2 linked regions of the Homo sapiens genome follow. The protein of the gene in region 1 interacts with the protein of each later gene in a pairwise test. Each region holds a gene or a part of one and is shown on either strand. Other genes may lie near its edges.

Region 1 (7,959 bases):
GTAGTAGCTGGGTCTACAGGTGTGCACCACTACGCCCAGCTAATTTTTGTATTTTTAGTAGAGATGGGGTTTCACCATGTTGGTTGGCTCGATCTCTTGACCTTGTGATCCACCCGCCTCAGCCTCCCAAAGTGCCAGGATTACAGGCATGAGCCACCGTGCCCAGCCTCTTTTTCTTTTCTTATAAGACAAGTTCTCGCTCTCTTGCCCAGGCTGTAGTGGAGGGCAGTGGCATGACCACAGCTCACTGCAGCCTCGACCTCCTGGGTTTAAGCAATCCTCCTGCCTCACCCTGGCAGAGTGGCTGGGACTACAGGTATGTGCCACCATGTCCAGCTAAAGTCTTCTCTCCAGAAAGAAGAAATGCATTGGAATTTAGAGGATACACAAACATCTAGCTGTATAGCTAATACAGTAGCCACTATCATGAGTAGGAATTTAAATTTAACTTAATAAAAATTAAAATGAAAAAATTCAGTTTTTCTGTTCCAGTTGCCACATTTTGATTGCTTAATAGTTGCATGTGACTAGTGGCTACATAACAGCCTCAATATACAACATTCTGTTATCACAGAAAGTTACCTTGGACCAAGTGCTGGGAGAAGCAATGCAGGCTTCCTCACAAAAGCTGTAAAAGAGAGAACTCAGGGAGTGTGAAACTCTTTCCTATTCTAGTTAACTTCAAGAATAATTGTTACCAGGCCAGCACGGTGGCTCACGCCTGTAATCCTAGCACTTTGGGAAGCCGAGGCGGGCAGATCACCTGAGGTCAGGAGTTTGAGACCAGCCTGACCAACATGGCAAAACCTCATCTCTACTAAAAATACAAAAAGTTAGCTAGATGTGGTGGTGCACACCTGTAATCCCAGCTGCTCAGGAGGCTGAGGAAGGAGAATGACTTGAGCTCCGGAGGGGGAGGTTGCAGTGAGCCCAGATTACACCACTGCACTCCAGCCTGGGTGAAAGAGCGAGAATCTGTCTTAAAAAAAAAAAAAAGAATAATTGGTACCAGAATTACTCTTTGTAATTAGTAGTAACACTTATGCAATTGGGTGATCTGTGACAGATTCCATTGAAGGAGTATGGGGAGCTTCACCCCAATATATGACTCCCTGGTATAATGAGTATTTTGAATTAAAGGCCCTTAGAGATCAGCAGATGCTGGAAGAGACTTTTCCCCTATCTACATAAAGACCAGTCACACTAGACAAGAAGAACAATTGTTTTTCCTTCCAACCCCTATTATCTCATTTTGTACTGAAGAAAAGAGGACTAAGAATGTAACCAGACCTAATCAGACACTTTCACAAAATAATGTCTGTCTCTCAGGCTCATTCATTTTCCAAAGAGAACCATTTACAAGTTAAACTCTGTTCCTCCATTCATTCATCCTCCCAAATATTCATTTATTCTCCCTAGTAATCATTTACTGCCCCTCAAAGAATTACCTATATTCTCCTGATATCACCCTTCCCCTCTGAAATAAATATGTATACATGTATAAACGTTATACATACATATTTATACAGTATACATACATATTTATACATACATACATATGCATACATATTTATATTTATGTATTTATACATAAGTATTTATAAATAAGGCTATATAAGTATCTACCCCCATTGGCAGAGGGGGTAATCACTCTGTGATTCTAGCCCATGTACTTGTTAATAAATTTGTATGCCTTTTCTCCAATTAGCCTGCCTTTTGTGAGTCGATTTTTCAGTGAACTTCAGAAGGCAAAGGGGAAGTGTTCCCTTGGCTCCTACACCATCATGACAATAAAATTTGACTCCACCTCGACCCCCCCCATCCCCCACAAAGAACAACAACCAACACTGGTTAATAAGGTCGGTTGTTTTTTGTTTGTGTTTTTGTTGTTGTTGTTTTTGCTTTCAGGAGCAGAGGTATAATAGGCAAAAGAAAGAGAAAGGAGAATAGTGAATACCTCTTCTGCAGAGAGGGGTGCCTAAGTGGGACTTCCCTGGCTAATAACGTCTTGCTAGAGACCCAACCAGGAGGATAATGGAAGCAATCAAGGCAACCAGAACAACCAGAAGAACCGGTTTATCCTTTTTGTGCCCTCTCCCTAAACTGAGGGAATAAGAATTGGAAAGAAGGCTGCAGAGCAGAGGGTTTGCTCCTGAGGAGCAGTTATTTCTATGGGATCAGAGCTCCTGCAGAACTGGGGAGTTTACTTTTACTATCTCTTCTCCAGGACAGGACCTATCTCAAGAGACATGTTCAGAGTGATTGCAACATAAAGAGTTTGCAGACCCAAGGAGGTAGGGAAGGCAGAAAGAAGATGGGGGAGGCCAGGGATAGGCAACAGAGGAGTGACCAGGAGCGAAAAAGCCTGCCTCTTCTGAGAACCTAGCTGGGCTCTCCCTGTACCCCCGATCCCTCCCCCCCGCCCGCCCCCACACCCCTACTCCTGGGAGCTCCTCTAGGACAGGGGCAGAGTCAGGAGGAAGTTTGAAGAGTGCCTAGAATAAAAAACAGTAATTTAACTACAATTACCGGGTAGGCTGTTTTCCTCTCACAATTTGATCAGTCTCTTGAAGCCACACAGAATTTCTTCTGAAGACGTGTATTCCTTGGCAGGCTATTTCCTCCAGTGATACACCAGGCCCCTCTCTGCTGGGGTCACTGCTCTTCTGGGGAGATGGGGCTCCCCTCCTTCCAAGGCTCCAGGGTTCCTGTCCTGGGCCCCACTCATCTAAGTTCTGAATCTTCTGAGATTTGGTGTAAAGTCTGGTGAAAGAAAGAGCAGGAAAGAGGTGAGAGCTGTAAAACAAAGAAAGTCCTGACCATTTTCAGAGTTGGAGGGGCCCTGCTGTCACGAAATATATTCCCCACCCCACTTGCCATCAGTACACACTCACATATCCACTGAGAAAACCTTAGCCTGGACCTTTTCCGTAACCTTCACTGCTCAGACACTTACATATTCGCTGCTAGTCCCCTCTGTTGCTGCCACTTCCTGGGTCAGGAAGTTAACTCAGACCGGATTAAACTGAGAAGTGAAACTACTGTGGGAGGCGGGGCTCATAAGATTTAGGAGAAAACTAGTGACGTTGTTCATATCATTTGCACTCCGCCTCTCCGGTAAAGGAGGGGGAAACGTAGGAAGAAAATATCCTTCTTTTACAGCAATAAAAAGAAGGAACCAATTAATAACCCTGTAAACTATCATGTGACCCCAACACAGAGTATCTAAAAACAGGAAGCCTGCAGAGGTTCAGTTCACAGACTCTGATTTGAGATCTTTCTACTTTTGCCACCAACTCCCTTGGGAGTCCTTAAGCCTTCCTAGCTGATGTTACTTCTTTTGCTATTTATGGGTTGCTTGTGGTTCTATAACTGCTCTGAAGGGTGTGGTGGAAAAAGGGGTGGTAACAGCAGTAGGACTCATTGGCATCACAAAATTCATCTGAGTCAGCTTTCTATTCTTCTCTGTCCCGTTCTGTGTCTTGTTTTTCTCCTTGCTGTCCTTCTGCAGGACTCAGATCTTCTTCAATAGCGAGGGTCAGCCAGGATAGAAAATGGGAGTCACTAGTGGCCCAGCAGTGAGTGCCCCCAGCTTAGAGCTGTGTGGGATCCCTGGGACCATCACTCTGCTTTGTGCTTTGTGGAGAAAAGGCTGTGGGGTCCAGGGTCAAGTCCTTAATGACTTAGCTCCAGCTTCTCCACTTCAAAATGAAAGGAAAAGTACTATCACCACCCGTTAGAATTATTATTTCATGGGGAAAAAAGATGGATTACTATCTCACAATAAGAGCTTGTCACATTTATAAGTCTCAGGTGTAAGAGGCATTTATGATAACAACATAATAAATGCTGGCTTAAGTAGATGCAGTGGTCCAAGGGAACCAGTAAGGGGAGCTCAGGACACAGGTGGGAGGAGAAATTAAACTTGAATTCTGGGAGCCACTGGCCTGTCTGGGCCCCTGGCCTGCCTGCTGACCCTGATAGCCAATGGAACATGGAGTTTGGCCCAGCTGCAATCCCTCTGGTCCAACTACTCAAAATAAAGGCAAGATTGGGAAACACGTTCCTTTCTTCCTATACCAAGCAGAAGACTCTTCAGCACTGCACCCTCCTGGGTGCTCACAGAGCCTTCTGTTGTTTTGCCACCTACGATTCATCATGCCCTGGCATGATGGTTGCAGACCCCATGCATAGCATGGGACATTCTACTCCTGAGGCAACCAGCACACAGAGAGAGGAGAAAGAATGAGCCCCTGAATCCTTGGTCCCACGATGAGTCCTTGCAGATATCTACAACTTTCATTGTTGTGGATGTGACTCTGTACCCAGGCATGGCTCATTCCAGATCTGTCCTATTGTCAGAGGTGTTCAAACCAGAATGACTCCATTTTGAATGGGGGCTAGGTAAAATAAGGCTGAGACCTACTGGGCTGCATTCCCAGGAAGTTAGGCATTGTAAGTCACAGGATGAAATAGGCAGTTGGCACAAGACACAGGTCATAAAGATCTTGCTGATAAAACAGGTTGCAGTAAAGAAGCTGACCAAAACCCACCAAAATCAAGATGGCAACAAGAGTGGCCTCTAGTCATTCTCATTGCTCATTATACACGAATTATAATGTGTTAGCAAGTTAGAAGGCATTCCCACCAGCTCCATAGTGGTTTATAAATACCATGGCGATGTCAGGAAGCTACCCTATATAGTCTAAAAAGGGGAGGAACGCTTGGTTCTGGGAATTGCCCACATCTTTCCCAGAAAACATATGAATAATCCACTCCTTGTTTAGTACATAATCAAGAAATAACTGTAAGTATCTGTATTAGTCCATTTTCACACTGCTGATCCAGACATACCTGAGACTGAGTAATTTATACCAGGAAAAAATGTTTCATGCTCTTACAGTCCCACGTGTCTGGGGAGACCTCACAACCACAGCAGAAGGCAAGGAGGAGCAAGTCAGGTCTTACATGGATGGCAGCAGGCAAAGAGCTTGTGCAGGGAAATTCCTTTCTATAAAACCATCAGGTCTCATGAAACTTATTGACTATCATGAGAACAGCAGTATAAATTACTCAGGGAAAGACCTGCCCCCATGATTCAATTACCTCCCACCAGGTCCCTCCCACAATATGTGGGAATTTAAGATGAGAGTTAGGTGGGGACACAGCCAAACCATATCAGTATCCTTAGTCCAGAAGCTGATGCTCTGCCTGTAGAGTAGCCGTTCTTTTATTCCTTTACTTTCTTGCTTTCACTTTACTGTGTAGACTTGCCCCAAATTCTTTCTCACACGAGATCTAAGAACCTTCTCTTAGGGTCTGGGTTGGGACCCCCTTTCTGGTAACACTATCAAAGGATCAGGAAAAGGAAGCTAGTGAATGCTAAAAAGGAAACAAACTACCATTACCAATAATAACAGCAAGACAAAAGCAAAACGGATTGTGACAGCTGTCCCATCTCACACCTGTTTCCCATTGCAGGAAGGAGGGGCTGGTTCATGCACAGAGTGGCCAATATTAGAAGCAGAGATGGGGTGCAGATGAGACTTCAGGAATATGTTGACAAAGGCAGGCCTAGGGAGAAATCAACCTGAACTATCCCCAAGGAGGAATGCATTATCTCTAATATGTAAAGTTAGGCTTGATCCTGTGATTATGGGATATAGGAGTCCAAAGACTCACAATGGGAAGTAGGTCACTAGAGTCTCCTTCAGAAGCTCTGTACTGTGTGTTCCCACTGTGGGCAAGAGTCAGCACTCAGCTATTCCTAGAATGCCTTTCCTCAACTCCTTCAGATTTTGCCTCTCAACTAACCCTATCCTGACCACTTGTTAGCAAGTGTACCCCTCTCTCCCTCCCAAACATTTTCAAATCTATTTTGTTCCCATGGCACTTATCACTGAATATTTTACTAATTTATTTTGTTTAGTGTTTGCTTCCCTCATGAGAATGCAAAGGGATGGATTTTTTTCAATATTGTTCACTGATGAATCCCAGTAACTAGAATATTTCTAAGCATAGTGATGTGCATTAAATCAAAGAGTAACTTTCTGAATTGCACTAAACACACATCACAAGAGGTGTGTGCACATATGTGCATGATGCACGTAGTGTGGTGTGGGTGTTGTGTGGGGTATGTGGTACTGTGTGTGCTGTGTGTGGTATGTGATACATAGTTTGTGTTAGTGTGATGCATGTGATGTGGTATGTGTGTGCGTGTCCATACATATTAGGGGTGGCGGGGATGTTAATATGTCAAATGGTACTAGAAAGTATCAGAACTCATGGTGCTTACTGGTTTCCCAGAGAGCTGCTTCTCTCCCACCTGTAGGATATACTGATGGTTTGGACAGAGAAGAAATAAAAAGAAGGCTGTGACCTACTGGGCTGAGGAAATAAAAACGAAAGTAAAAGAAGAGCTGGGAAAAGAGAGTGGAGGGGCCAAGGGAAATTTCCCCTTTGGCTTCTGGGGAAACTTTGCTGAAAAATCAACTCACAAATTTATTAACATGTACACAGGGAGAACCATAGAATGATTATCCACTTCCCAAGAGGGCTTAAAAGCTTATATATTATCCTGGCAAAACAGATTATGGGAGGGGAAGAAGAGAAACTCTGTTGATGGGATTACTGTTGCGGATTTTTGCTCCTTCGCTCAGCTAGGTCCGGGTTTTTGTCTCACAGCCAGGAAGAATTAGGCATGCAGCCATCAAAGAATGAGTGGAGTAGAATTTATTAAGTGAAAGGAAAGCTCTCAGCAAAGACAAGGGTCCTGAAAGCAGATTTCTGGTTTGCTCTTCACAGTTGAATACTAGGGCTTAAGACTCAAATTCCTGACAACTCCACCCTGTCCTACCAGTGCATGCAGGCCTTTAGACTGAGCTACTCCATATTGATTAATTTCCTGAACTGTGCATGTGTTAAGGAAAGGAATCATCCACTGCAGGCATGTTTAGGCAAGCCCCCTGTGCAAGTTCCCTTATCTGCACAAAACATCCGGTGTAAGCACTTGTGGGGCAGGTCAGAGGTTCTCTGGGTACCATTCCCTTACTGTCTGCCTAAAGCAAGCTGGCCAACTCCTTTCATTACTAGGGAGAGTAAGTAGATCAGGGAACAGAGATTAACTTGAACATTATCTTGTGAAAGTCCGTTCGGGCATGGTTACATTCTTGGTCTTACAGGAAGGGTAAATAAAAATAATTGCTCTTTTTGGTGGGTCTGGATCTTAGGTAGATAAAGAAACTTTAATTCCACGATGTGTTTTGGTAGGGATAGTTGGTGGCAGGGATGTCAGAGAGACTTTGAGGCTTCTTCAGTTCAATATGACCAAGGGCCATATATTAGGGTATCAATTTCTGAGCCCCAACAAGAGCTTAGGAGAGATGTGATAGCATCACAGTGTGAAAGCAATTTTTTGTTTGTTTTTAGAGACAGGCTCTTGCACTGTCACCCTGGCTGAAGTACAATGGTACGATCACAGCTCACTGTAATCTTGAACTGGGTTCAAATGATCCTCCCATCTAAGCATTTCAAAGTGTTGGGATTACAGGCATGAGCCACGGTACCCAGCCTGAAACTGCACCCACTTTCTGATAAACTTTTCAAATGACTAAAGGGGAGAGAGTAAGCACTACTCAGAGGTAGGAAGAAAGGACACAGGATTATAGGATTAAAACAACAACCACCAAAAAAAACCAGACCGGTGTGGTGGCTCACACCTGTAATCACAGCACTTGGGGAGGCTGAGGTGGGGGGAGTCACTGGAGGCCAGGAGTTCGAGACGAGCCTGGCCAACATAGCAAGATGCTGTCTCTATTAAAAAAAAAAAATACCTGCCTTGAGCTAATCAGAATCATGGACCCTGACAAAGGATGTCCCAAAGTAAGTCTTAGCATTTTTTTTTTTTTTTTGAGACAGTCTCGCTGTGTTGCCCAGGCTGAAGTTCAGTGGCGTGATCTC
Region 2 (7,024 bases), on another chromosome or scaffold:
GGCTGTGATGTCAACACTTTGGGAGGTCAAGGCAGGAAGACCGTTTGAGCCTGCAGTGAAATATGATCACGCCACTGCACTCCAGCCTGGGTGACAGAGCAAGACCCAGTCTCAAAAAACAAAACAAAACAAAAACATTCACGTAAAGAGCTGTTGGCTGAGTTCTATGTTAATGAATCCACAATACACATTTAAAAAGGTGTCTTTAAGTAGAAATACACAAAAAACAGGTTATGTACTGATCAGTTGATAAAAATGTGACCAGTGGCTTGTAGGACCCTAACCCAGTACTTTCTCTAGGTGCAAGAGTTCAGTATTTTGTTAGTTTTTGTGGTGACTTTAGAACATAACTACCAAAAATAACGAGAACCTGCTGTACAGAGTAAGAGAATAATTTAGAAGTTCAAAAAAGTGCTGCAAATAGGGCTTGTAAATACTTTAGCCTATACAGAAAACTGCAGGGAGCTGCATTAAGAAAATCTACAATGAGAAATTAGACTGGGAGCACATATTTGGTTGACAACAGCTGAGAGAAGGGTAAATGATGGCTCAATGCACTCACCCTAGCTGATGGAAATCACCTGAAGAGTTTAAGCAATGTTAATATCTGGGTTCCACCACAGAGCTTGAGTTAATCGATACAGCATGCTTACAAGCTGCAAAAGCTTCCTAGGTGATTCTAATATGCAACAAAAACTTCTTAAAGTTTTACTTAGCATTCCTAAGAATCACATGCAGAGCTTGTTAGAACAGATTACTGGGTTTCACCCTCAGAGATTTTAATTCAGTAGATCTGGGATGGGACATCAGAATCTGCATAGGTGATGCTAAAGCACCATGGCTACGCATTAAGTACCACTGCCCTGTATCACTTCTGTCATGAAGCCACAGATAGCCAAGGGAACTCAGGTTGAACAAACCCCAGCAACAGAGCTCCCTTCAGCCAACACGTAACTGTTCTCATCTCTTGGTTCCACTTTTCCTCTGTGGCCTTAACTTCTACACCTCATCTTCCGCGCAGCTTGAGCTGCTGCCTGTGGGCAGCCTCAGTCCTAGCTGCGAGATCCACACCCACACATCAATTCTGGCTTTGTTCAGCTCACGTGTTCATTCTCAAACCAATTCCTGCAGACAGAGACGAATAATCTGGCCAGCCTGAGGAACGTGCCCATCTTTGTGAAAGGACTGTAAGCCACAATGTGCAAAAAGTAATCGCCCTGTCAGTTTTTGTATATTTAACAATTACTGCTACAGAGAATTTATTCCTTCATTTCCATTTTCCAAATTTTATTCCAAAAAAAGGGGATGTGTGTGGAAGATTAAGACGTCCATGAAGGGTAACCATCATCGTTACAATAAAGTATTCAATTGGACAGAAATGACAAGGACCCAATTCAGTATGTAATGTCCTATTTTCCCACTGCACCAGTTAAAAAAAGTAAAGCCTTCCTAGTGTGGAAGAGTAGGACTGCTTTTACACTGAAATGGTGCCCCAAATGAGTAATAAAATCTCTGATTCTATTTATCCTTTTCTTTCTGTTCTTTTTCTTTCTTCTCACGCTCAGCTTTGGCTTCTTCTTCCTCATGTTTTTTGATCAACTGCTCCACTTCTTTTTGTTTGAGAACTCTGATTACTGTCTTTCCATTCTCTCTTGTTAGTGTTGCAATTTCCACTAAAAACAAACACATACATTTATTTGTATTGCAGGCAGGCAGGCATACTTAGCAGAGAAGCTTAATAGGCACTCATGGTTTATGCTCGCCACATCATTGAAACGTTAGTTCAGCACTCTCCTATGTTTTATACTTAACATTATTCCCTTTTATGAGAACAATATACTTTTGATCTTGTAATGTTTTAATTATAATTTTTACTTAAATATCGTCTCCTCAGCCATTTTGTCACTCCCTTAGAAAAAGTATAATCAACCAATTGCTATTGCCGGCCTGCTATTAGCTGTGCTGATTAGACGGAACTGTTGGAACCTCTGAGGGCTCAGCCAGAATCTTCAACTGGTAATAACAGCTTATTTTTTATGGACTTTTCAAGTCTCTTAAAAAAATAAATAAATAAAAGGCATGAAATGGCCAAGAAAAGCAGACTGATACCTAAAGGGGAAGGAATTTTTTTGTACCAGGGAAACTGAGTAGTGCTTCCTTGAAACTGGGTGGAAGTAGACAAAAGAGGGCAATCTGCATGTAAATGACATTTTCTTTTTCTTTTTTTTTTTGAGATGGAGTTTTGCTCTTGTTGCCCAGGCTGGAGTGCAATGGCGCAAACTCGGCTCACTGCAACCTCCACCTCCTGGGTTCAGGTGATTCTCCTGTTTCAGCCTCCTGAGTAGCAGGATTACAGGTGCGCACCACCACGCCCGGCTAATTTTTTGTATTTTTAGTAGAGGCAGGGGTTTCACCATGTTGGCCAACCTGGTCTTGAACTCCTGACCTCAGGTGATCCACCCACCTCGGCCTCCCAAAGTGCTGGGGATTACAGGCGTGAGCCAATATGCCCGGCCGTAAATGGCATTTTCTAAGGAACACCAGGAGCTAAACTGTCCTAACATAAAGCAACATGTTAATTTACCACAATTTCTGAAAAACATTTAGAAATATTCTTTTTTTTTTTGAGACAGAGTCTCTCTCTGTCACCCACGCTGGAGTGCAGTGGCATGATCTCAACTCACTGCAGCCTCCGCTTCCCAGGTTCAAGTGATTCTCCTGCCTCAGCCTCCCAAGTAGCTGGGATTTATAGGCATGCACCACCATGCCTAGCTAATTTTTGTATTTTAAGTAGAGATGGGGCTTCACCATGTTGGCCAGGCTGATCTGGAACTCCTGGCCTCAGGTGATCCACCCACCTCAGCCTCCCAAAGTGCTGGGATTACAGGCATGAGCCACCAAGCTCGACTGAAATATTCTTTTATATAGTCATATAGCTTAAGTTGAACAAGGTATTTGGAATTGCTAACATGAGCTTAAAATAAGAGATTAGTAGATTAAGAAGAACAGGAGAGGGTATCACAACCCACGCAAATGTTGTATCTCTGGTAAAGTATACCAAACCTATGTATAAATATATAACTACATACGTATGCTTTATCATATATACACACAAGCAAAGATATCATTGATGAGAAGACTTGATAACTGTTAACTAAAAGTAGCACAGTGCAGGATGTCTATCTGTGAGTAATGAGATTGTTCAGTATCAAGCCTTTAAGTTTGGAATACAGTGTGAGATTGTGACTCCACAATTTACCAATGTTGATCTTGGTCAACTCACTTAACCTCATTAAGCCCTAGTGTCCTCAGTTAGAAGACAGGGATAACATCACCTAATTCGTAAGGTTGCTGTTTCAATGAACTAGGATGACATGTTAAAATCTTAACAGTTGCTGGCTGGGCGCAATGGCTCACGCCTGTAATCCCAGCACTTTGAGAGGCTGAAGCGGGAGGATCACCTGAGGTCAGGAGGTCATGACTAGCCTGGCCAACATGGTGAAACCCCGTCTCTACTAAAAATACAAAAATTAGCTGGGCATGGTGGCGCGAGCCTGTAGTCCCAGCTACTCGGCAGGCTGAGGCAGGAGAATCACTTGAACCAAGGAGGCGGAGGTTGCAGTGAGCTGAGATTGCGCCACTGCACTCCAGCCTGGCAACAGAGCGAGACTCCATCTCAAAAAAAAAAAAAAAAGAAAAAAATCTTAACAGCTGCTAATTTCCCTCACTCAGTCGAAAGAATTAAAGGAGAGGATATGAATTACCTTTTTCAGCAGAGAGTTTACTAACATCCATGGTCTTATTTAGTACTTTGATAGCTAAAGCAAGTGCTGACTTCAAGGTCATTTCTCCTTCTTTATAGTCTTGTTTCAACATTGACACAGCTGCCTATAAAACATGAATCAACATAGAATTTTAAGTTTTTACATTTTTTAGAAACATGAATTGGTCTAGAAGAAAAATGCCTGAATTATTATTGGCATTACAAGTATAAACAATTTTTTTTTTTTTTTTGACACAGGGGCTCACTCTGTTGCCCAGGCTGGAGTGTAGTGGCATGATCTCAGCTCACTGTATCTTCAAGTCTCCCCAGGCTCAGGTGCTCCTCCTCCCACCTTGGCCTCCTGGGTAGCTAGGATTACAGGCACATGCCATGGCGCCCAGCAAATTTTTGTATTTTTTGTAGAGATGGGGTTCTGCTATGTTGCCCAGGCTGGTCTCGAACTCCTGAGCTCGAGCAATTTGCCTGCCTCGGCCTCCCAAAGTGTTGGGATTACAGGCATGAGCCACCATGCCTGGCCCATATACATAATTTTGATGACAGGGAGGGCACACACGGCACGGGGTGAGAAGAGGGGGTACTAATGCTCTATAAAGAGTGTCTTTAACCTGGGGTCCTCAGTCTCCCAAGGGGTCTGTCATAGAATACAGGGGGTCTGTAAACTAGATGTGAAACAAAATCACAGCTTCTAATTTCACAACTCCTAACTGAAAATTAGCATTTATTAATGTAGTTAACGAACCCCAGTATATTAGCTATATCAGCAATGCTGTCACCAACAGAAATCACAGATATTTCCATATCACATTAAGGTTGTTGCAGCTATCTTAAAATACTGTTTACATTCATCACCATGGCAAAATTATGGCAGTTATTAGACATTCTGCTAGATTTTATAGCACAACAAAAATACTCACAGCGCTATTATTTCCAATGCATGTGGCCTTCCATCCCCCGTAATTTCCACTAGGGTCACTCTGATAGAGCTGAAAGCCATAGTGCTTATCCCAGCCAATGTACAGCAATGAAACACCAAAGGGACGTTTTCCTTTAACAAAGAAAAAAAGCCAAACATATCAATAATCTAAATTTAGTATCACTACAGTTACTTGAGCTCAGTGAAGGTAGCTAAACCCTACTCTGTGAACTTAAGCATTCATAAACTGTTTTGTATTCTGGCTACCATAGATAAGCTCCATTACAAATTCGACTTTTGTTTCTACGATTTGGACACAGCCAGAAGAGGGAACAGACAAAGGACCAGTGCTGAATTTCATTATTATGTAAACAGCAGTTAGTTTCCAGATTTGAAAATGTTGTTTTGGACTTTCAATATCCTATTAATAAAACGAGGGTAATCTACATGGTGGAGGAACACGTTCATTCATGAAGCAAGAATGTATGAAATTCTAGTGTTCTATACTACTGTAGGATTAATATAGTTAACCATAACATATTAGTTTCAAATAGCTAGAAGGATATGGAAGGCTCCCAACACAAGTGTTTGAGATGATGAATGTGCCATTTACCCTGATCTGATCATTATGTGCACTGAAACATCATTATGTACCTCATGAATATGTACAATTCTTATTTGCCAATTAAAAAAATTAAATTTAATTTAAAACAAAGGGTCTATTTTCAATTTTTTACTACCTCAAAAGGGTTATAACTCATAAAATGTCTTAACTTTTTCGAATAAAATTTTCAAAAAAATTAAATACCTCCAAATTGTGTATAAGCTTGTTTGATATCACACAGCGCTGTAACCAACTGCTCACAAGGTATTGGCTCCTGATACTGTAATAAATACCTAGGATAAAGAGATGGGCACATTAGTAGTTTTCTCTAAAACACAGACAGACTCTAAGGAAAATATTCTCTGAAAAGCAATCTATGCCATGGGGACAACCTAACAGTCATTTGTAATTTGAAGGGGAGGGAACAAGTCAACATCTGAATATTCTCATAGTAAATAATATTTTGTAAGTTTGGTTGAAAAAAATCTGTAATTTTCAATTCAAAGATTTTTAATGACTTTAATCTTTGCAAAAGTGAGCTCTCCTTAGAAACATCAAAACTAGGCCAGGTGCAGTGGCTAATGCCTGTAATCCCAGCACTTTGGGAGGCCAAGGCAGGCGGATCACGAGGTCAGGAAATCGAGACCATCCTGGCTAACACAGTGAAACCCCGTCTCTACTAAAAATACAAAAATTAACCCGGTGTGGTGGTCAGCTACTTGGGAGGCTGAGGCAGGAGAATCGCTTGAACCCGGGAGGCGGAGGTTGCAGTGAGCCAAGATCGTGCCACTGCACTCCAGCCTGGGTGACAGAGTGAGACTCTGTCTCAAAAAAAAAAAAAAGAAACATCAAAACTAATTTCTGTATCATCAGTTATGCTATTTATGACCATACCTTTGAGCAATGAGCCTTAGTTCATTAGTCAGAACATTAGCATCAGAAGTTATGCCTGCCACACTGCAAGCCATGTCCCTTGAAGAAAAAAAGACATTGATCTGTAAGCAGGGAAGATGCTTGCAAGGAGTGTTTATAAGTATTTAAAAAATTCTAATTTCTATTAGAAATTCACTATGTTTGCTTCACAACAGCTACTTCCTTCAGAAAAAACCTACAAGTTTTATCTTTGTAGGAGATGTTTACTCGATGTCACTCAACATGAAAGATAAACAAATGCACCCTTTAAGTTATTTAATAGATGTATTTATCATTACCACCTATGAATAGGATAACAAAATTAACGCCAAGAAGCTAATGTAATCTCAAGAAGATTCAGCAACAAAGAATAAAAAGACAGGCTTGCCACAATGGCTCACGCCTGTAATCCCAGCACTTTGGGAGGCCGAGGTAGATGGAGGGCTTGAGCCCAGGAGATCAAGAACAGCCTGGGCAATACGGCAAAATCCCATCTCAACAAAATATACAAAAACTAACTGGGTGTGGTGGTGCGCACCTATAGTCCCAGCTACTTGGGCGGCTGAGGTGGGAGGATCACTTGAGCCCAGGAGGCAGAAGCTGCAGTGAGCCAAGATGGCGTCACCGTACTCCAGCCTGGGTGACAGAGCAAGAATCTGTCTCAAAAAAAAAAAAAAAAAAAAGATTTTGCTAGACAGACTGCTCTTGAGTAATATTCATTTCCTAAGGCCTGGCTTGACAGAGGTGACAGGGGACAATGGCAGGAGGGTTTACAAGCCTGCTTAGGAAGTACAGGGCTAGGCTCCTACTA

Evidence for each region. The genes of interacting proteins can lie anywhere in the genome.
Region 2: the proteins of TRIM38 (region 1) and PSMA4 interact in binary tests that used the Homo sapiens proteins (3 or more experiments, as listed by UniProt).

Annotation. Positions count from the first base shown.
Region 1 is NC_000006.12:25,957,853-25,965,811, reverse strand, and holds the start of TRIM38 (E3 ubiquitin-protein ligase TRIM38), read right to left. Parts: upstream 3,011-7,959; 5' UTR 2,957-3,010; intron 2,764-2,956; 5' UTR 2,530-2,763; intron 1-2,529. UniProt on the Homo sapiens protein: E3 ubiquitin-protein and E3 SUMO-protein ligase that acts as a regulator of innate immunity. Acts as a negative regulator of type I interferon IFN-beta production by catalyzing 'Lys-48'-linked polyubiquitination of AZI2/NAP1, leading to its degradation.
Region 2 is NC_000015.10:78,543,439-78,550,462, reverse strand, and holds part of PSMA4 (proteasome subunit alpha type-4), read right to left. Parts: intron 6,274-7,024; coding exon 6,196-6,273; intron 5,595-6,195; coding exon 5,506-5,594; intron 4,830-5,505; coding exon 4,699-4,829; intron 3,889-4,698; coding exon 3,765-3,888; intron 1,674-3,764; coding exon 1,519-1,673; 3' UTR 1-1,518. UniProt on the Homo sapiens protein: Component of the 20S core proteasome complex involved in the proteolytic degradation of most intracellular proteins. This complex plays numerous essential roles within the cell by associating with different regulatory particles.